3 linked regions of the Homo sapiens genome follow. The protein of the gene in region 3 interacts with the protein of the main gene of each other region in a pairwise test. Each region holds a gene or a part of one and is shown on either strand. Other genes may lie near its edges.

Evidence for each region.
Region 1: the proteins of FAM168B (region 3) and UBAP2 interact in binary tests that used the Homo sapiens proteins (3 or more experiments, as listed by UniProt).
Region 2: the proteins of FAM168B (region 3) and TCF7L2 interact in binary tests that used the Homo sapiens proteins (3 or more experiments, as listed by UniProt).

The regions. Positions count from the first base shown.
Region 1 is NC_000009.12:34,038,837-34,045,944, forward strand, and holds part of UBAP2 (ubiquitin-associated protein 2), read right to left. Parts: intron 1-7,108. UniProt on the Homo sapiens protein: Recruits the ubiquitination machinery to RNA polymerase II for polyubiquitination, removal and degradation, when the transcription-coupled nucleotide excision repair (TC-NER) machinery fails to resolve DNA damage. May promote the degradation of ANXA2.
Region 2 is NC_000010.11:112,953,239-112,960,346, reverse strand, and holds part of TCF7L2 (transcription factor 7-like 2), read right to left. Parts: intron 1-7,108. UniProt on the Homo sapiens protein: Participates in the Wnt signaling pathway and modulates MYC expression by binding to its promoter in a sequence-specific manner. Acts as a repressor in the absence of CTNNB1, and as activator in its presence.
Region 3 is NC_000002.12:131,048,401-131,055,508, forward strand, and holds part of FAM168B (myelin-associated neurite-outgrowth inhibitor), read right to left. Parts: intron 7,050-7,108; coding exon 6,872-7,049; intron 4,616-6,871; coding exon 4,503-4,615; 3' UTR 4,491-4,502; intron 4,053-4,490; 3' UTR 1-4,052. UniProt on the Homo sapiens protein: Inhibitor of neuronal axonal outgrowth. Acts as a negative regulator of CDC42 and STAT3 and a positive regulator of STMN2. Positive regulator of CDC27.

The sequences.
Region 1 (7,108 bases), on a different chromosome or scaffold from region 3:
GGAGCGTCTCTGCCCGGCCGCCCATCGTCTGAGATGTGGGGAGCGCCTCTGCCCCGCCACCCCGTCTGGGATGTGGGGAGCGCCTCTGCCCCGCCACCCCATCTGGGATGTGAGGAGCGCCTCTGCCCGACCGCGACCCCGTCTGGGAGTTGAGGAGCGTCTCTGCCCGGCCGACCCGTCTGAGAAGTGAGGAGCCCCTCCGCCCAGCAGCCGCCCCGTCTGGGAAGTGAGGAGCCCCTCCGCCCGGCAGCCACCCCGTCTGGGAAGTGAGGAGCGTCTCCGCCCGGCAGCCGGCCCGTCTGGGAGGTGGGGGGCAGCCTCCGCCCAGCCAGCCGCCCCTTCCGGGAGGGAGGTGGGGGGCAGCCCCCGCCCGGCCAGCCGCCCCGTTGGGGAGTTGGGGGGCGCCTCCGCCTGGCCGCCGCCCCGTCCGAGAGGTGGGGGGGGCGCCTCTGCCCGGCCACCCCTTCTGGGAAGTGAGGAGCCCCTCTGCCCGGCCGCCACCTCATCTGGGAGGTGTACCCAACTGCTCATTGAGAACGGGCCATGATGACGATGGCGGTTTTGTCGAATAGAAAAGGGGGAAATGTGGGGAAAAGATAGAGAAATCAGATTGTTGCTGTGTTTGTGTAGAAAGAAGTAGACATAGGAGACTCCATTTTGTTCTGTACTAAGAAAAATTCTTCTGCCTTGGGATGCTGTTAATCTATAACCTTACCCCCAACCCCGTGCTCTCTGAAACATGTGCTGTGTCCACTCAGGGTTAAATGGATAAAGGGCGGTGCAAGATGTGCTTTGTTAAACAGATGCTTGAAGGCAGTTAAGAGTCATCACCACTCCCTAATCTCAAGTACCCAGGGACACAAACACTGCAGAAGGCCGCAGGGACCTCTGCCTAGGAAAACCAGAGACCCTTGTTCACTTGTTTATCTGCTGACCTTCCCTCCACTATTGTCCTATGACCCTGCCAAATCCCCCTCTGCGAGAAACACCCAAGAATGATCAATAAATACTAAAAAAAAAAAAAAAAAAAAAAAAATACAAGCCGCACACGGTGGCTCACGTCTGTAATCCCAGCACTTTGGGAGGCCGAGGCGGGCGATCACCTGAGGTCGGGAGTTCAAGACCAGCCTGATGAACATGGAGAAACCCCGACTCTACTAAAAGTACAAAATTAGCCGGGGGCATGGTGGCACATGCCTGTAATCCCAGCTACTTGGGAGGCTGAGGCAGGAGAATCACTTGAACCCAGGAGGCGGAGGTTGCGTTGAGCCAAGATCACGCCATTGCACACTAGCCTGGGCGACAAGGGCTAGACTCCGTCTCAAAAAAAAAAAAAAATTAGCCAGGTGTGGTGGCACGTGCCTGTAGTCCCAGCTACTAGGGAGGCTGGGGCAGAAGAATCCCTTAAACTCGGGAGGCGGAGGTTGCAGTGAGCCGAGCCCACGCCATTGCACTCCAGCCTGGGTGACAGAATGAGACTCTGTCTCAAAAAAAAAAAAAAAAAAAAAAAAGGGACAGAAAACAAACACACAGGCCAGCCAACTAGAAGACTAAATATAATGGCAGACATATATCCAAAATATCTGTAATTACAACAGATATGAATGGTCTCCATGCTCTAGTTAAAGAGGTTAGCTGATGGCTCACTCCTACAATCCCAGCACTTTGTGCGGGTGAGGTGGGAAGATCACTTGAGCCCAGGAGTTCACGACCAGCCCAGCCAACATAGCGATACACTCTAATTAATTAAAAAGAAGTTAGCAAGTTGCTAACTTAACAAAGCAAAATCCAGCTATGTGGCGTTCATGAAAGATATATCTAGAACATCCCACTACAATTGGCTAAAACTAAAAAGGCAACATAAAATGTTGGCAAGGATGTAGAACTCTTAAACCACTCAGTCTTTGAGAATGAATTCCCAATTCTTAGGGCATCCACTCTGTGTATAAGCTGAACTTTTTCCAGACACCTAGAATGAAATTCATTATGTACCATCCTTGACAGATTTGAGAAAATAGTAACTCAACTTTCTGTGTTCTGTGGTTCAGCTGACAAGCCTGAGAACAACTGTGCAACATGTGGAAAACACTTTAGCATTACTTAGTAAAAGTTACACATACCCTACATACAAACCAAAAATTCCACTCTCAGTTATGTAGTCTTGAGAAAATGGACTTTGTTTGTTGTGGGCAGGGTGGCAAATGTCCACATGAGGACAAGTAAAATTGGTAATCTCAAAAAACTGGAAATGAGACAAATATCCATCAACAATGAAATAGACAACATATGGCACATCCTTACAATGTAACCTCATACTACTATAAGAAATCAACGGGCCGGGCACGATGGCTAACACCTGTAATCCCGGCACTTTGGGAGGCCGAGGTGGGCAGATCGCTGGAGGTCAGGAGTTCGAGACCAGCCTGCCCAACATAGTGAACCCACAGCTCTACTAAAAATGCAAAAAAAAAAAAAAAAATTAGCCAGGCATGGTGGTGCCTGCCTGTAATCCCAGCTACTTGGGAGGCTGAGGCAGGAGAATTGCTTGAACCCAGGAGGCAGAGGTTGCAGTGAGCCAAGATCGCACCATTGCACTCTAGCCTGGGCAACAAGAGCAAACTCCATCTCAAAAAAAAAAAAAAAAACAAACAAGAGTCCATGACCAGCCTGGCCAACATGGTGAAACCCCGTCTCTACTAAGAATACAAAAATTAGCTGAGCATGGTGGCAGGTGTCTGTAATCCCAGCTACTCGGGAGGCCGAGGCAGGAGAATTGCTTGAACCAAGGAGGCAGAGGCTGCAGTGAGCTGAGAAGCCGAGATCGTGCCACTGGCATTCCAGCCTGGGCAAAAGAGCAAGACTCCGTCTTATAAAACAAAACAAAGAAAAAAGAAATCTACATGGGGGCTGGGTGCAGTGGCTCATGCCTGTAATACCAGAACTTTGGGAGGCCGAAGCAGGCAGATCACCTGAGGTCAGGAGTTCGAGACCAGCCTGGCTAACACAAGGAAACCCCGTCTCTACCAAAAAATACAAAAATTAGCCAGGCATGGTGGCGGGCACCTGTAGTCCCAGCTATTTGGGAGGCTGAGGAAGGAGAATCGCTTGAACCCGGGAGGTGAATGTTGCAGTGAGCCAGGATCGAGCCACTGCACTCCAGCCTGAGCAACAGACTGAGACCCTATCTCAAAAAAAAGAAATCAACATGGATAAATCTCAAGCATGTAAGAGTGAAAGAATCAAGCATCAGAAGAATCATACAATTCTTACATTGAGAATAAGACTGAAAATGGGCACTATTAAACCATATGTTGCTTACGGATATACATATAAGGTAAAATTATTGTAAAAAAGTAACAGTAGGCTGGGGTGGTGGCTCATGCCTGTAATCCCAGCACTTTGGGAGCTCAGGTGGGCGGATCATGAGGTCAGGAGTTTGAGACCAGCCTGGCCAACACAGTGAAACCCCATCTCTACCAAAAATACAAAAAATTAGCCAGGCGTGGTGGCGGGCACCTATAATCCGAGCTACTCGGGAGATGGAGGCTGGAGATTCGCTTGAACTTGGGAGGTGGAGGTTGCAGTGAGCTGAGATCGGGCCACTACACTTCAGCCCAGGCGATAGTGCAAGACTCCGTCTCAAAAAAAAAAAAAAAAAAAGGAACAGTAGAACCTGCAGAGTGACTCATACCTATAATCCCAGGACTCTGGGAGGCCAAGCAGGAGGATCACTTGAGTCCAGGAGTTCAAGACCACCCTGGGCAACATAGCTAGACCTTGTCTCTATTTTAAAACAACAACACAAAGGAATAGTAAACCTATAATGTAGGGTAATGGTTACCTCAAGGAAAGCGAAAAGAAATGCCTTGGGAGCTGGCATACACAGGAGACTTCCAGGTAGCAGTAATGTCCTATTTCTTGGTTGTTCATTTTACTTTTTTTTTTTAATTTTACATATGGGGCCAGGCATTAAGCTCACACCTGTAATCTCAGCACTTTAGTAGGCCAAGGCAGGAGGATCACTTTAGCCTAAGAGACCAGCCTGGGCAACATAGCAAGACTCCTCTCTACAAAAAGAAAAATTAGCTGAGCATGGTGATGCATCCCTGTGGTCCAAGCTACTCAGGAGGCTGAGGTGGGAGGATGCCTTAATCCTGGGAGATAGAGGCTGCAGTGAGCCATGATCATGCCAAGACACTCCATCCTGGGCGACAAAGCAAGACCCTGTCTCCAAAAAAAACAACTCTACATATGTGTTTACCCCCAACCACCTTCTACGTTATACAATGACAACTCTACATGTTTTTATGCCTCATATATCATCTACGGTATGTATGCTGTTTTTTGGGTTTTTCTTCTGAGACAGGGTCTGTCACCCAGGCTGAAGTGCAGTGGCACAATCACAGCCCACTGCAGTCTCAACCACCCAGGCTTAAGCAATCCTCCAACCTCAGCCTCCTGAGTAGCTGGGACTACAAGCACACCATGCCCAGCTAATTTTTGTATTTTTAGTAAAGACAGGGTTTTGCCACGTTGTCTAAGCTGCTCTCCAACTCCTGGGCTCAAGTGATTCACCTGCCTCGGCCTCCCAAAGTGCTGGGATTACAGGCATGAGCCACCACACCCAAACTATGCTGTATTTTTCAATAAAAATCAGCAAGTATGCAAAGTATGATCCTATTATTTATGGAGATAGGGTCTCACTCTGTCACCCAAGCTGGAGTGCAATGGCACAATCATAGCTCACTGTGGCCTCAAGCAATCCTCCCACCTCAGCCTCACAAGTAGATGGGACTCTGGGTACATGCAATCATGCCCAGTTAATTTTTACATTTTTTTTATAGAGACAGGGTCTCACTATATTGCCCACGCTGGTCTCGAACTCCTGCTCAAGAAATCCTTCCACCTCAGCCTCCCAAAGCGTTGGAATTACACGCAGGAGCCATGGAGCCAGGCTCCAACTTTTTTTTTTTTTAAACATATACTCCATGTTTCAGGGGGAAAAAAAAGGCCAGGCACAGTGGTCCACAACTGTAATCTCAGCACTTTGGGAGGCCGAAGCAGGTGGATCACCTGAGGTCAGGAGTTCAAAACCAGCATGGCCAAAATGACAAAATCCTGTCTCTACAAAAAATACGAAAATTATCAGAGCACGGTGGCAGGCTAATCGCTTGAACCCAGTAGGCGGAGATTGCAGTGAACAGAGATCACACCACTGCACTCTGGCCTGGGTGACAGAATGAAACTCCACCTCAAAAAAAAAAAAAAAAAAAAAAATTAGCCGGGCGCGGTGACTCACGCCTGTAATCCCAGCACTTTGGGAGGCCGAGGCGGGCAGATCACACACGAGGTCAGGAGATCAAGACCATCCTGGCTAACACGGTGAAACCTTGTCTCTACTAAAAATACAAAAAATTAGCCAGGCTTGACAGCACACGCCTGTAGTCCCAGCTACTCGGGAGGCTGAGGCAGGAGAATGGCGTGAACCTGGGAGGCGGAGTTTGCAGTGAGCCGAGATAGCGCCACTGCACTCCAGCCTGGGCAAGAGAGCAAGACTCTGTCTCGAAAAAAAAAAAAAATTAGCTGGGCGTGGTGATGCATGCCTGTAGTCCCAGCTGCTTGGGAAGTTGAGGCACAAGAATCACTTAAGCCAGGGAGGCAGAGGTTACAGTGAGCCAAGGCACCACAGCACTCCAGCCTGGGCGACAGAGAAAGACTGTCTCAAGAAAATAAAAATAAAAGAAGAAGCCAGGTGTGGTGGCTCACGCAAGTAATCCCAGCACTTTGGGAGGCCAAGGCAGGTGGATCACCTGAGGTCAGGAGTTCCAAGACCAATATGGCCAACATGGTGAAATCCCATCTCTACTAAAATTACAAAAATTAGCCAAGTGTGTTGGCAGGCGCCTGTAACCCCAGCTACTCAGGAGGCTGAGGCAGGAGCATCACTTGAACCCGGTGGGCAGAGGTTGCAGTGGGCGAAGATCGTACCACTGCACTCCAACCTGGGTGACAGAGCGAGACTCCATCTGTAAATAAATAAATAAATAAATGAAGAGTATTACCTAGTCTTAAATAAAACACCTACTCTACTCCTTAATGTGAGCCCTATTTCATACTTCAAATCCAAATAGTTAACTGGATTCCAATTCAATTATGCTATGTCCAGCATGAAAATTAGTTATCAAAAAATGGAAACTTATCAAACATTGTTTACAAACGGGTAAAAAAAGGCTGGGCGCCGTGGCTCACCCCTGTAATCCCAGCACTTTGGGAGGCCGAGGCGGGCGGATCACGAGGTTAGGAGATCAAGACCATCTGGCTAACACTGTGAAACCCCGTCTCTAATAAAAATACAAAAAATTAGCCGGGCGTGGCGGCAGGCGCCAGTAGTCCCAGGTACTCGGGAGGCTGAGGCAGGAAAATGGCATGAACCCAGAAGGCGGAGCTTGAAGTGAGCCGAGATTGCACCACTGCACTCCAATTTGGGCAACAGTGAGACTGTCTTCAAAAAAAAAAAAGGGTAGAAAAAAATAAAAATTAAAAAAAAAATTTTTTTTTGAGACGGAGTCTTGCTCCATCCAGGCTGGATGAAGTCCAATGGCACATGGCTCACAGCAACCTCCACCTCCCAGGTTCAAGCAATTCTACCGCCTCAGCCTCTGGAGCAGCTGGGACTACAGGCACGCGCCACCACACCAGGCTCATTTTTGTATTTTTAGTAGAGACGGGGTTTCACCATGTTGGTTAGGTTAGTCTCGAACTCCCGACCTCGTGACCCGCCCGCCTCCGCCTCCCAAAGTGCTGGGATTACAGACATGAGCCACAGTGCCCAGTCACAAAAGAAAATTTTTAAGGAGCATCTTTGAGAAACTTAAAAAATGTCAAGTAAACTCAGCAGGAAATATCAGCATAAGTGGTTTACATTAAAATTGTAAAAACTAATCTGATAAATTTGATTCTTTGAGTTAGTAAAAAAAGGATCCTATTCCTAAATACTTGATAGTTGGGGCAAAATTACTTCAAAATCTACCACAAAGATTACATGGTGATATTCCCTACATGTCCTCCCTCTCTTTGCCTTCCTTCAGGTTGTATCTCCACTCTTTGG
Region 2 (7,108 bases), on a different chromosome or scaffold from region 3:
CAATGTAAAGACCAACATTTTAAGATTAACCCCTTCCCTTATTATCATCATATCTAGATTCTTCATCTTATTTCTAATCACTACTGGGCTCTAAATTTGATGTTTCTGATATGCAAAACATCAGAGATACCCAGACATGGAATGGGAAACAGCTTTTTTCAACCACAGGAATCTCCTCCTCAAAGACAATTAAAACAATTGAAATCCTCTGTTGGTTTTTCCAGCACTAAGCTAACTTCTAACATGATGCACATTAATTTTTGATGCCTATTCGTCCTGCTAAATTGGGAAGAGGTGGAACATTTACTTTATTTTCAGTTTTATGAATCACCTGGCTTTCTCTTATCTATATTAAAAAAAAAAACAGATCATTTCCTAGGAGGTGTTAGTTTTTTTGGTCCACTTTCCTCTCTACCCTGTAGCTGCTACCATGAGCCACTTGAAATCTAATTTCCATGTAATTACCTTAAGAAACAAAATACTTTTTTTTAGTATACCTAAGACCTTTTCTTAGGTCATTAGTCATTTGAGCAACCACAGGCCATTATAAGCCCAGCTTCCCCTACCCCACTGCCCCCAGTCCTGTGTTGAGAGCCTTTTACATTTAATGGGAAATAAACTTTTGACCAAGACTTTGGGTGACTGCCTGCCCTTATAAAAAGTACCAAGGGGGGCCTCTGACTTCAAGAGAAAAGGCAAAACCAGCATTGCCTGGTACTTGAGCTTAAACATTCCTGCAGAGATCTAGACACTGAACATTTGTACCATCCCTAAACAATAACTTAACGACAGCATCCCCTTTCACTTCCTGGCATTCTGCCTCAGAAATTCTGCTGCAACAAAATGCATGCCTTTAGACACAAGAACAATCTCTCCTACTGTCTCAATGTTCCATCAAATGTCTATTTACCCTCATTAATTTTTCTTTTCCTCAACCTGAAACCATCAGCTATGAGTCAGAGAACGATCATTAACTTTTACAGCTTCTATACGTATCCACCTACTCACATTTGGGGAAAGAAGTATTGACTTGCAACATTGCCTGAGACCAAAATTCTCTAAGAAGAAAAAAAGGGGAAAAAGTCGCTTCAAGAAAGTTTTATCTGTAGGTCTGCGGGGAAATGCTATGTTCATCGTTTCTCCACTTTGTGCTGCAAAGTCTCGCAAAAAAAAAAAGTTGAGCTTGAACTTCTTTATGGTGATGGGCATTTCTGGGTTGATTTTTGAGAAAAACTAGATGATTTTCTTTCAACGTCAAAACATAATTAAAGCTCTTAAACTGTCTGGGGGAAAAAATAAAGTGAATCAAGTTTCCTGCTCTTGTACAAAACATATTTCTAGCATATAGAAAAACACGTGGGCTGAAGTGCTGAGACATGTTCCTAACACAGCATTTTTCATTAAAAGTTGCTACACTAAAACTCTTAAAATGATGCCCCATCATTACTCCACTTAGCAGTCGCAGTGCTGCAACTCATAACGAATTAATTTGCATTAATGTGGGTTTCATGTGTCCTTCCCTGGGTATGCCATTGTGATTCAGGCTTAATAAAACTGACACGACAACAACATAGTGCCTTTTATTTCACTTTCCAAAACAAACCAACCCACCCAAAGACCCACACAAATCCTCTCAATTTTTTAAGCATTTTACTAATATATTTTAGTACATCATAATTGGCCCAGCACGAAGGAATCTAGTTATCTTCTCAGTAAATATTTATAGCGTCACTCTTTCCCATTCATTCTGCATTTTCTTAGAGAATCTCACTGTAGCCTACATCTGCAATTCATTGACTTTACAATTTACCACATGTTGGGATGGGAGAGGTCTTAGCTCCATTTGAATCACTACACAAATATGCAAGTGATTTATCGGTTTCAAGCTGAAGACTGCAAGAGAGGGACTCCACTTTTCCTGAACATTACTTCTTCTGGCAGACCATGAACAATTACAGTGCGTACTAATTAAGCTCTGTAAATGTGCTGTGCCCTGCTAATGCCTACCAGGCCTCAAATTTATTTTCATGATGCCAAACTTTAGGGAGCAATTTTAACTCCTTCAGGGCTGATGCCACTCCTGGCCATTCCTTCCTCCGTAGACCGACCTGGTTGGGGCTACTGCATGACAAAAAGAATAAAATATAACAGGTCGAATTACTAGCCCGAAATCAGATGTGCCTAAGGAGAAAAAACCTATCTTGGGAAAAGCAAAGAACACCTCGGCTGATAACCCGTTCAAAGATCCCACAGCCCCTTCTTTGTAATGAGCTGTTTAGGGATTCATATCTATCCCTGAGGGCTAGTAAGTTTCTGCATGCCATTGATTAGAAAAGAAAACCTTTCGGCCTGGGTCTTTAAGTTTGGGTTGGATGGAAGGAAGGATCCAGTCAGAAATGAGAGCCATCATCTCTCCTGGCCTGGCAAACACCTTTGAATCTCACTTCCTCCTTATACCGCGTAGTCAGTTTGTAATACACCAGAACAGCCCACTTTTTCAACATAAATTAAAATCAGCAGGACAACTGGCCTTCTCTCTCACACTCCAGTCTCCACCACAGATAATGCCTCACCCTCAGATGCTTACACAGTAACTGATAGGAAACACATCTGTGGCTAGGTAGAACACCCTGGGTAATGAAGGGATCGCAGCCCATCTTTGCTGAGCAAAGCAATATCCCTTTTTAATAGCCCAGCCCAGGGTACTCCCACGCCCCTCCATAAGGAAACTTCCAATCTCCAATTTCAATTCCCCCAAACCCAAATCTTTGTTCTCTTGTATTATACTTTTCTTATCTTTCTTAGGCATTTATTCTGTCTCCTCTGGCTACTTTTCTGTGCCTCCTCCCGCAGATACCAGTACATTTTTCACAAATAAGCAGCCCTCCCATCCCCAGTGTAAACCTGGATTTTTTTTCCCCTCACCTATTATATTCTTTTAGTCAACTCTCTTCACCTCATCTCACTTTTTTAAAAACTCTCACGTTAACTAGTTTAACTAGTGTACTATGTAATGTGTACATTTTCCCTTCCACTCAGGGGAACATCATATAAATTAAAGAGCCGTCTCCCATACCAGGTTTCTTTAAGTATTCCTGGGGAAAATGCACAATATAGGCAATGTAATCTCAAAAAAAAAAAAAAAAAAAAAAAAAAGGTGGGGGTGTTGGGGGGAATTAAGAAAAGAGAAAGAAAGGAAAAAGGGAGAAAAGAAAAGGGAAAAGATGCAAACACCTAGAGCAACTTTGCTTTTGAAAAAGGCATCTGTGCAGAGCCCCCACTGAATTTCCATTCCTGAAAGTGCTCTTTATAAATGTGTATAACAATAGCCTAGAGGAAACGTACAAGTCAGCTGCCAAAGGAGTGGTGGCGTCTGTCTCAGTAAACTCAAGATTGTAGAGGTGGGGGTCAGCGGAGAAGGGAGGGCAGCATTTGCATTAGGATACCACCACCTCCCCCCATCTCATTGCTTATAATTAGTGAGAGAAATCTGAGCTACTGCCAATGTCTGCGGACCTTGAATATTATAAGGCCAACGTGGCGTCAAATATCTTAACATTCATAAGTGTTATGGGCTGTAAATAAAGCCTGTGGATTTATGACCTGGTGGTGCGCTTGCCAGCAAAAAGACTGGGGCACATTTCTTTCAGCAGACCTGTCGAGGTGCGAGTTTGCCTTTGGTTGTAAAATTAACCATTTCCTTCACAAATGTGCTCAATTATAAGTCAGAGTTGAAGATTTACTTACATAGTTGCCAATATTCACTCCCAGAAGAAACTCAGATGCCCACATCACACACCCCTTTGAAAATAAGACCCTCAAGAATTTGGTTCAGCCTCCTTTTCCAAACTTTAAAATGTGTCACCTCAAAAGAATTATAAATGCAGTCAAAGATATTATCTAATGCCACTCACCAAGACTAAAAAGCTTACACTTACTTCCCTGGAAAGTGCTTATTTATTTGGCAACTCCAGCATTTAAAAAAAAAAAAAAAAAAAAAAAGGTAAATCACTCCTTGCCTGAAATCTCCTCCCTTCCCCCAATATAATGTCATCTACTTCCTGTGCAGGAGAGAGCATTTGCTAAATCCAGGTTGTCTCATACTTAACTGCCAATAAACCAACTTCCACATAACTTCCAGACAGCTGGGGGAAAGGTCCTCGGAGTTTTAGTCATGGTCCAGAAACACGCGTCCACACAAAAATTTGCAGCTGTCCTTTCTCTACAGTGCATTTTTAATGTGATTCAGGGGGGCCTGTTGTGAAACATCTGACAAAATGTAAAATCCTCTTAGATACCTTCTAGTTTACCCACTGCACGTGTGTAAGAGAAGTTGCACCAGGATTTCTCCACCGAGAAATCTAGGCACTTTTTGCACACAGCCAGGGGCACCTCGTGGGATGTAAGGAGGCATTCGAAACCTGGAAAGACTTCTACTGTAATCTTTAAAAGCACAGCCTCTGGTGCAACTATTAAAATGCTAGTTTTCTAAAGCAAATATTTTTTTCAATGGCGTGCAGAACTGCAGCGATCCAGCACGGCAAACAGAACAGCATTCTTGATCTGCAAGCCCCTGGAAACCTTCCGGTAACTTTTTCACAGCTTGCTAAGAAACAGAAAGCTGACCAACTTCCAGCAATGACTCTAAATGAAATCCCTATCAGTAAAATTAAAATCAAGGTGAAGAACTCCTAGCAAGAACGAGGATTGTTTTCCTCAAAAAACTCTTTCTCAATCAGACACAGAGGGCATCAGTCAAAGCTCCTTCCCTTAAACAGTCAAAAGTTTCCAAAAACACGTCTTCCAGATAAGCTCGTTAGGCTCCCAAATGCCTGAGTTTGTTTCTGGGATTTCAGAAAGTTTCAATATCAACAAAGTGGAAAGCGCTGGCATATTTAATTTATAATCATTAAAATATGACTTATTGGGTGAATGTTGAGCCTATAATCCATACTGCAGACATTAAACCCCAACCTATAAAGATTAGCATGGAATTAATACGGTTGCATTGAGATTGAAATCTAAACATGTTCGCCATAAATATTTCTGAAGGAGATGAAAAACAATTAGCATAAATACCAAAGAAGGGTAAGAACACCTGTTCTTTTTCAGGGCGATAAGCATTTTATTGTTCTCTATTTAAAATGTAATGACCTGTGTAATTACAGTAATATTACATTGTTATGTAGGGGCTTGGAATGTCACACTTTGAAAAGTGTTGTCAAAACAATCAGGGGTGAGGTGGGGGGGTGGGAGGACAACTGGGAAGGACCACCATTAACCCTTCACACTCCAAGGTCTAAATCTTTTGTATTAGAAAGGATTATGTTGTTTCAGTGAGGAAAAAACGTCCATTTTTCACAAGCCAGAAAGAGAAGTTGCCCGGCTAAATAAAATCCCAATGAATAGGCCCCTCTCGGTTTCCTTTAAATGCTGGATTCCAAGTTCAAAAATGAATTCAAGATGCAGCTTATTTATCTGTTCAACCTAGTAGCAAAGAGCTCGGTTGAAAAGCAAATAACTTTGGATAAGAGAAGATGCAAGGGCTCGAATAATCAAGTCCTTAAAAAGAAATTTCAAACCTAACTGGAATTTCAACCACCATATTCCTATTTCCACTTTGCCAGGAGGGAAAAAGAAATGTAAAACTACTTTTTCCAATCAACTTTAATAGGTTACAGTATTCTTATCTTTAATATACAAATGTTACCACAGTTCTAATATTTGCAGTTCTAACACTTCCCATCTACTTAACTAGACCTCTCCTTAATGCAGTTTTGTATCTGAATCTGTCTTTTTAAAAGCCATTCCTATTACTGAATCAAAGACTAAATTAATATTATGCAGAAATCTTTGTCATTTTAAAATAAAATTATTACTATCAAGCTTTATGGTGTCTTCAGCAATTAAAGCATTATTCTTGAGATAATGTATTATTCATCATAAGCCGATTTAATGATACTCTCTAATTCTTTACATTCTTAAATAAAAAAGCAGAAATCAGGGTTCCAGAGAGTTTGCTTTTTAAAGGATGCAGCTGCTTACAGGTACACCATAAGTAACAGAAAATGTAGCAAAAATCACCGCCACCAAGGAGCAAAGGGAAAATAATAAAGCATACAGCGAAATTTGTCTTTACACCTTGCCATTAAAAACACACCCTATAAAACACTAAGGATTTCAGAAGAGTATGGGAAGCCCGCTATCTTGCCTATGCATTCCTCCATTCCTCCCGCAGCTGTATCAAATCTGGATTGCAAGCTGGCCTTCTGATTGAAGACGTCAGGAATGACACACAACAGCCTACCATCCTCATTTCCACTGCTCTGCTGACCAGCCTAAATAAATAACTTTAATTTTGGAGCACATAATCTAACCCAGGTAACAGGGAGGAAGGACGAAGGGGCAGTGTACACAAAGATGTCTGCTGGTGTTTGACATGTAAGTACTAAAACTGCCTACTGAGTTCAGAAATGTGTTCTGAGACTCAATCTGATGTCACAGCACCAGGCCACCCGCTATGTCCACAATTAAAATAACTAGACGCCGTCTATTCCTATAATGCCCACAAAAGGGACCGATCATTGGGAGCCTTCCTTTTCTCACCGGGAAATCATTTATTTGCCTTTAGCAATTTCCCTGTTTGCTAATTACAAGACAACACAACTGCTCAAGTTTGAGAAGGGATGGCAAGATTGCCAGTATCAGACAGCGAGTTTAAAAAGAGTCAAGAAAGCTAGCAAGCCCGCCATCAAAGCTCAATATTCAGATGGTTAAGTGGATTTTAAAATAATACCAGGGAGGTTTCCATCGGAAGGGGGAGGGGAGGAGAGGCAGAAATTCTCAGGGATTCTTTGGAATGTTGCTTGGTCCGGTTTATTGGTAGGCGAACACTGCGATTCTGAGCCGAACGGTCCCGTTTAAGATGCCCCACAAGCTCCCAAGAAAAATACAAAGTAAGCGAACTGTGCTTCCCCTACAGCTGCAAGCCCAGAGCGCGGCCCCTGCAGCCTGGTGGAACTGGCCCTGGAGAAGGGGGTTGAGCCGAACCGCTCTCCCAGCTTCCCAAGCATGTCTGGGCGCCGGGCAGGGGGGGAATAATTATTTC
Region 3 (7,108 bases):
AGGCCCGGGGGGGGGTCCCTACACAGACGCCGCTCATCCTCTGTCTCCCCTTCCCAAGTGACTTCACTTCAGTCCTGTGGACCAAGATAAGGCTATCCCCACAGGCTCTCTCTTCTTCAAATAATGAGTAGGAAAAAGAGACAAACTTTCTGAAACATGCAGTTTCCGACCCAAATAGGCCACATACCCCAACTTCTGTGTTACTTGGTCAGTTGAGCCCCTGGAGCCCTCAGGACCTACTGATAAAGCATGTCCTCTGCAGTATACTCAAGAGTCTGCTGCCCTTCAGAAAGCCAGAGGGAACACTCACAAATGCAGAGGTACTAGAGGGGAGAAATACGTGCTCTGCCTTCCCCCAGGCCAACCACACTCTGCTTTAGAGACCCTCTCAGAAAGCACCAGAGAGGAGGACCAGACGCTGCCACCCACCTCAAGCCACACCCCTGCCACCTGCTGCTGCGCCCAATGGAGGTCCTGTCCTGTCCGGGCAACAGCCAAACTGGCGACAATGGACACATCCAACAGTCAGCTGTCGGATAAGGTGAAGGTGGCCCAACTGCTCAGAGTAACACTGTTCTCAAATGTTTAAAAAGGACAGGTGAAGTCTGGGTCTCCTTTTTTAAAGCAGACACCAATACTTACATAACTAGTACATGTTGGCCTTTCACCAGCACTCACTGGCACTCACAGGTGCCTTACATACCTTACGGGGGCCAACACTGACAGGTATTAGTACGTCGCAAGTTGCTGTAATAATGTATTTCCTCTCGTTACTGTTGTGTCCCCCAAGACACATGCAAATTATTTCCTAGACCTCATTCATCACAGCCAGATGATGCCACCAGAAAGAGCAAGGTACTGTATGCCCAGCTGGGGAAGGGCAAGACACTCACTGACCAGGTGCCCACCCCAAGGCTCAGGACCACCCCCATTGCCTGTGAACACATTTGCATAGCACTCAAGAAGGTTTCCCAGAATAGCGACAGGTAGGCCTACAAACCACACCAAGAAGAACGTTCTTAACAGATGGCTCACGAGAGACATAAAAGGTTCTGGAAGTGCCTTCAGGCCCATTACCATGACTGGCCCTGACTCTGGCCCTCACAGAGCGGCAAGTTCATGGGTCACTGGCTCACACTAAATGCTCAGCCGCCAGCACAGATCCAAACAAGACCTCCATGAGCAGAGAAACTGCAGCGGCTGAACACACTCCCCAAGCCTCAGGGGAGAAGGTGTAGAACAAATATTTTTTAAATAGCCATCATGATGTCCATGTTTACATGAACTAGGTCCTTTGCTTACCTGCTGTCTCAACTTCTAAAAGAATAGTAATTCAGCTGAAGGACTCCCAAATTAGGAATGTCAAACACACAAAAAGCAAATTTCTCAGAATGCTCCACCATATGCTTCGGGACAAATTATGAAGCTTTGTAACAGAATTTTGACCCAAGTTCTATTTCTTAATTGACTTTAATTTTACTAGAAGCGAATGTTGATAAAATTACAACCTATGACAGTTTTGTGACTATTTCCTAAGTCCAGATTCTTACCTGATATCTACCTTTCGTATCTGACAGCTGACGTCCTAAAAATTTCAAAGTCAGAAAGATTTCTGCACGGATGTGCAATGCAAACTTATTTCATAAAGCCTCTCAACTTCATAAAAGGGAAAAAAGGTTAAGTTACAGGGAGGAAGAAAAGTGTTTATGAAGCTGATGTAAATGGCGTGTGGGGGGTGCAGCCCACTCTTTAAAACACCATCCTGTGTGTGCCAAGTACCAAGCAAGCCTGAAGAGATGCCTGTAACTTCTAACCTCCTCCTGAACCCCAAGACTCCAGCCCTCACAGGAGTTGTACATGTATGTTTCCATTTTGTTGTGTGGGGCTTTTTAAAAGCATACACTAACATTGTGAGTATTTTATCCTAATCTATTAGCACTCAATTGGGAAAAAAGACTTCTCTGCTACTTGGTCAGCTGAACCCCTGGAACCGTTAGAACCTACTAATCCTGCCAACCATCCACTAAACAGATGGAATTACCAACAGAGACTTGAAGAAAGGGGCACAAACTGTGTGCCTGCGGTAAATGTCTGCCCCCACACATAGACACTAAGATGGATTAAGTGCTCATGAAGCAATTTAAAGTACTTATCAGTAAACATTCTATGTTAATAGACATCAGGAATAAAGAATCTGCTGTTTACAATGATCCATGCAAAAATATTCCTAAACTTCTTATAAAATAAGATGTGAAAAAGAAAATTATAAGAAGTACTTACTATAAAAAATAAGGTTACCAAAGGCTCAGTGGTCAGGTGTCCCCCCACCAACCAACTGGGGCAGAATGCTAGTGGGCATCCTCACTGGGCGCCAGTGCCCTGACCCAGCTACCAGCAAATGAAGAGGAGCAGAGCCCCCTCCCCACCAGAGCCCACAGCACTCAAACCACCACTGCACTGGGAAGAAGACGCACGCTCCTGCCCTAGAGGCCGCTGAAAGGGACCCAGGCCTTACATCCCCCACCCCCACTCTGACCCTCACTGAGAACCGACATGCACTCTCATGGATACAGGACGGGCATATTTTGGGGGCGGGGTGGAGGGAAGCCTTTTCATTTCTTATGTACAAGATTCAGATCCTAAACTCAAATTCCTCTCCCACAATAAACCCTGCCAGCAAACGCACTCCAGCACTGCCTGGCCCTCTCTGCTGTCTGTGCTTGCTTTGTGCCAAGTGCCCTCAGCTGCAAAAGAGATGGCAGGAGAGGCTCGCAGACAACAGACACTGGCCTCCCCCTCGCCCCATCTCTAAGCGTCCCCTCCAGCCGGCCTCAGCAGACAAGTCACCACCATCAGGTGGGTGATCCCAGAAGCAGCTACAGGTTTCTACATTTCCAGACATATCCACGGCCCTGCCTTTCTACAAGAAATTGGAGGAATTTTAAATAAAGTTTTGTTCCCTTTTAACTCATTCTTAAATATACCACTTTCTTCATAACATACAGCTGAAACCTTTGCCCTTCTTTGTTGGGGAAAAACAGCAATGCCTACCTGTTTTCAGCTGATTCAAACATTTCTCCAGGAAAAAAAAAAAAAAAGGAATGATTTTCTAAGCTAAATAAAGCAGAGGACAATACCTCCTGCAAGCATGGCTGTTTCTCTTTCACATTTCTTCCATCCCAGGAAAATAATTTAGTTTTACATAGGACTTTTCCAATAAAGACATATAAAAACATCATCTCTCTAAGAGAACTGTAATGAAAATTTAGATAGCAGAGAAACTGCTTTGCTGACACATAAACCACCCCCCTCGCCCCAAATTTCACTGGCCACACTACCATAATCTTTCATGATGAGCTTTAAGCATGTCCCTGTTCCACTGACTCCACCAAGCCTAAACTCAAAGGGATGTCCATGAACCAGCTGCACCCAAGCAGCTGTGGCTTCCCTACTCTCTCCCAAACCTCGCAACTCCCTCCCAGGACAGTCAGTGCCAAAGAAACAGGTCGCTGAAAACTAAAATGTCCACATCCCTAACTGGCAACCCACATCAACCCCAAAAGGTTGAAGAATCATCTAAGATATTTCAGATGCTCTATGAAGAAATTCACTTTAACACTTATAACTGTAAGACTTTGCATACATTACAACAGTGCATTAGTGATACAAGTTGTAAAATACGTTTCCATTCCTTTGGATTTTGCATATGATGGTTTTGCATCAGTCACTGCAGGTAGATTGAGCAAGCTTTTTGTGTTTGTTTTTTTAAACATGCATTCAACTAGATATGATTCAGAATAGATTAATACTCCCTTTTTATCATTACAGTTAGCTAAAAAATTGCCAGGCAGTCCACAAAACAGAATTTGCTTTAAGACCAACCCACAGAGTCAGCTGGAGACTAACGGCGCTGGGGCCTGCTGGGCCGGGATATAGTCGTGTTTAGCTAAGTGTCGAGAGCATTAAGAAGAAAGTCCTGGTTGGAGGCGCAAGGCCTGCAGCACCAGCTGTGGAATCCCCAATAATGTGACTGCACAGCTCCGTCCTCAAACCTGCAGAAAGGAAGACAGACACTCAGTCACACAGAGCTCTTCCGGCACCGCTATTCCAAAATCTCAAGTAGGATGAGGCCCAGCAGGGTCGGAAAGGGCAGCAATGGGCAAAACTGCTGGACCTGGTTCTCACTTCCTTCCTAGAGACCCCCAATTGCAACTGGAGCCCTATTTCCTGTAGCAGGCAGGTGGGGGGTTAGAGCACATTCCAGGCAAGGCTCAAGATGGACAGTGTCAACAGTAGGTATTCAATGGTTCCTTCCTTCCTTCTACTCTGTAATGTCTCAATAAAAACAAAAAATTTAAACACTACATTGCCTCTGGATCCAGGGTCAGGCACACTTTCCTCGTTAGTGCTTAAATATGTGGTAAATTTGCCACTGTCCCATGGAAATGCCCTTTCATCAAAGGCTAGCCCAGCCTTCCCTGGTCACTTACATTTGCAGGTGATCACCACTGAGGGGGCACATAGCTGTAAGTGGGCGTTCCTGGGGCCCGGTACGTGGGCACAGTGACCGGGTGGGGGGCGACAGGAGTTGGGGAGTGAGCAGTCAGCAGGGTACCTGGAAGAAAGAGCAGCACATGACATGAGGCTGACCTCCTGCACAGCTCCACACTGCCTGATACGCACACAAGCCTGGCCTCTTTGCAAGGAGGAGGGTATACAGGAAGAGGGATAGTCTTGACCCAGATACTGTCAGAACTCTGATTAGATAATCCCCCACACCCAAAAGTTGTCTCCACACAGCAAGCTCCACAGACAATATGTTCGTAAAAGCCTTTTGTGTGTCCCCTTCATAAAGCACACCCAATAATTTTTATAGGTCAGATGATAAACAAATGAGTATGCTTCAGCCTTAACAAGGAAGGAGATTCTGACACATGCTACAATATAGATGAACCTTAAGAACATAATTCTGAAAGAAAGAAGCCAGTCACTAAAAGACAAATACTTAATGATTCCACTTAGATGAAGTACCTGGAGTAGTCAAATTCAGAGACAGAAAGAAAGTAGAACAGGGAATTAGCGTTAATGAGTACAGGAGTTCAGATTTGCAGGATAAAGACGTTCTGGAGCTCTGTTTCACAACAATGTGAATATACTTAACACTACTGAACCGTACTTAAAAAGGGTTAAGATGGGCTGGGCACAGGGGCTCATGTCTGTAATCCCAACACTCTGGGAGGCTGGGGTGGGAGGATAGCTTAAGTTCAGGAGCTTGAGATGCGCCTGGGCAACATAGTGAGATCCCAGCTCTACAAAAAGTTTTAAAATTAGCCAGGTGTGGTAGCATACTTATAGTCCCAGCTACTCAGGAAGCTAAGGTGGGAGGATGGCTTGAGCCCATGAGTTCCAGACTACAGTGAACTGTGATCGCACCACTGCACTCAAGCCTGGGCAAAAGGGCAAGACCCTGTCTCAACAAAAAAAAGTTAAGATGGTAAAAACAAATAAATAAAAAACAAGAGGCTGGCAACAGTGACTCACGCCTGTAAGCCCAGCACTCTGGGAGGCCGAGGCAGGTGGATCACCTGAGGTCAGGAGTTCGAGACCAGCCTGGCCAACATGGTGAAATCCCATCTCTACCAAAAGGTACAAAAAAATATTAGGCAGGCATGGTGGCAGGCGCCTGTAGTCCCAGCTACTGGGAAGGATGAGGTGGGAAAATCACTTGAACCTAGGAGGCAGAGGTTGCAGTAAGCTGAGATCACACCACTGCACTCCATCTTGGCTGACAGGATGAGACCCTGTCTTAAAAAAAAATATTAAAAATTTTAAAATTAAAAAAAAAAAAAAGAAATGAGGATTCTAAACTACATGAGCTTCTGAGTTCTTTAAGAGAAATCTATTTTTCCTACAACTGCAGAAACTCAACAACTACTTGAGTCCCTTTATGGACCAGCACCACCTCCAACACAGTGGCACCCAACCTGGTGCCTGCTGCCCTCCCTCCCTGTGCCTCAAACCAGCAGTTTCTGTCTATGCCCAGTTTCCTGTTCCTTGACAGATAAGTATGGGGAAAACCAAATCAGAGTCTACATTGAAGCACACATAATAACCCGGAATGCTTTTCTCTCTGGCATAATTTCCTTACACTGAAGTCAAGTCCAGAAAAACAAGGAGGGAACAGTACGCTTTTGTGTGGGCATGACCTAAAGGTGGTCATATTGACCCAGAGACCAGGAGGTGAATCCACATGGGTGGTCATACAGATTGGGTGGTCACCCAATCCCTAGACATCAGATCAAACCCCCAGGGCTTCCGCGGAGATGTGCCCATCCCAGCCAGGGGCCTCATCTTTCCATGGTTTATTTTCCTTAGAGGAGGCCTTGCAAAGTAAAGTACGGTAGATGAATGCCAAAGGATTTCTACAGGCAGCTGTTTCTTCTATCAACGCAAGACCAGCTCTCCTAGATGCATGAAAACATCCCGATGAAGACAACTGACCTGCAAAGACAAGCTCCCCTCAAGGGAAAGGAAGAAGGCCAGAGCAACCCCGGTACACAAAGTGTCCTCCTTCTACTCAAGTCTTACATGGTCATAGGGGGTGGGAGGAGAGGGGGCACATCCTGCATTGCCAAATGGCTCAGTTCACCAACAAAGCGAGTCCATCAGATTCAGAGAGGCCTCCACAAGGGGTCACTCAGGTAGGCAAAATAAAAGATAACCTGCTGTTTCTTCCCCAAAGAATTTTCTGTCCTTCCACACAACTACAGCTATGAAAACCTAGAGCCAAGGGTCAGAGGATTCGTGAGCTCTCCCCTCCCCCAGCTCTAGGGTACACCATAGGACAGACACCGCAGGAACGAGGACTTACCTGCTGACATGGCCATGGTGGTCCCAGCCACCATGCCCATGGTGACCCCGTTGCCTCTAGGAGGGGGGATGGGAGCAGGGTACACCGTTGCAGGCATGCCGTTGGGCTGCACCACCGTGGTGTGGTGGATGACGTGAGGAGGTGCTGCATACAGCGGCTGTGTGTAGTACGTGCCTTGCTGTGGGGAGAAGAGAGACAACTGACACAGGGTCCCAGGGCCAAAGGATGAACGCCCAG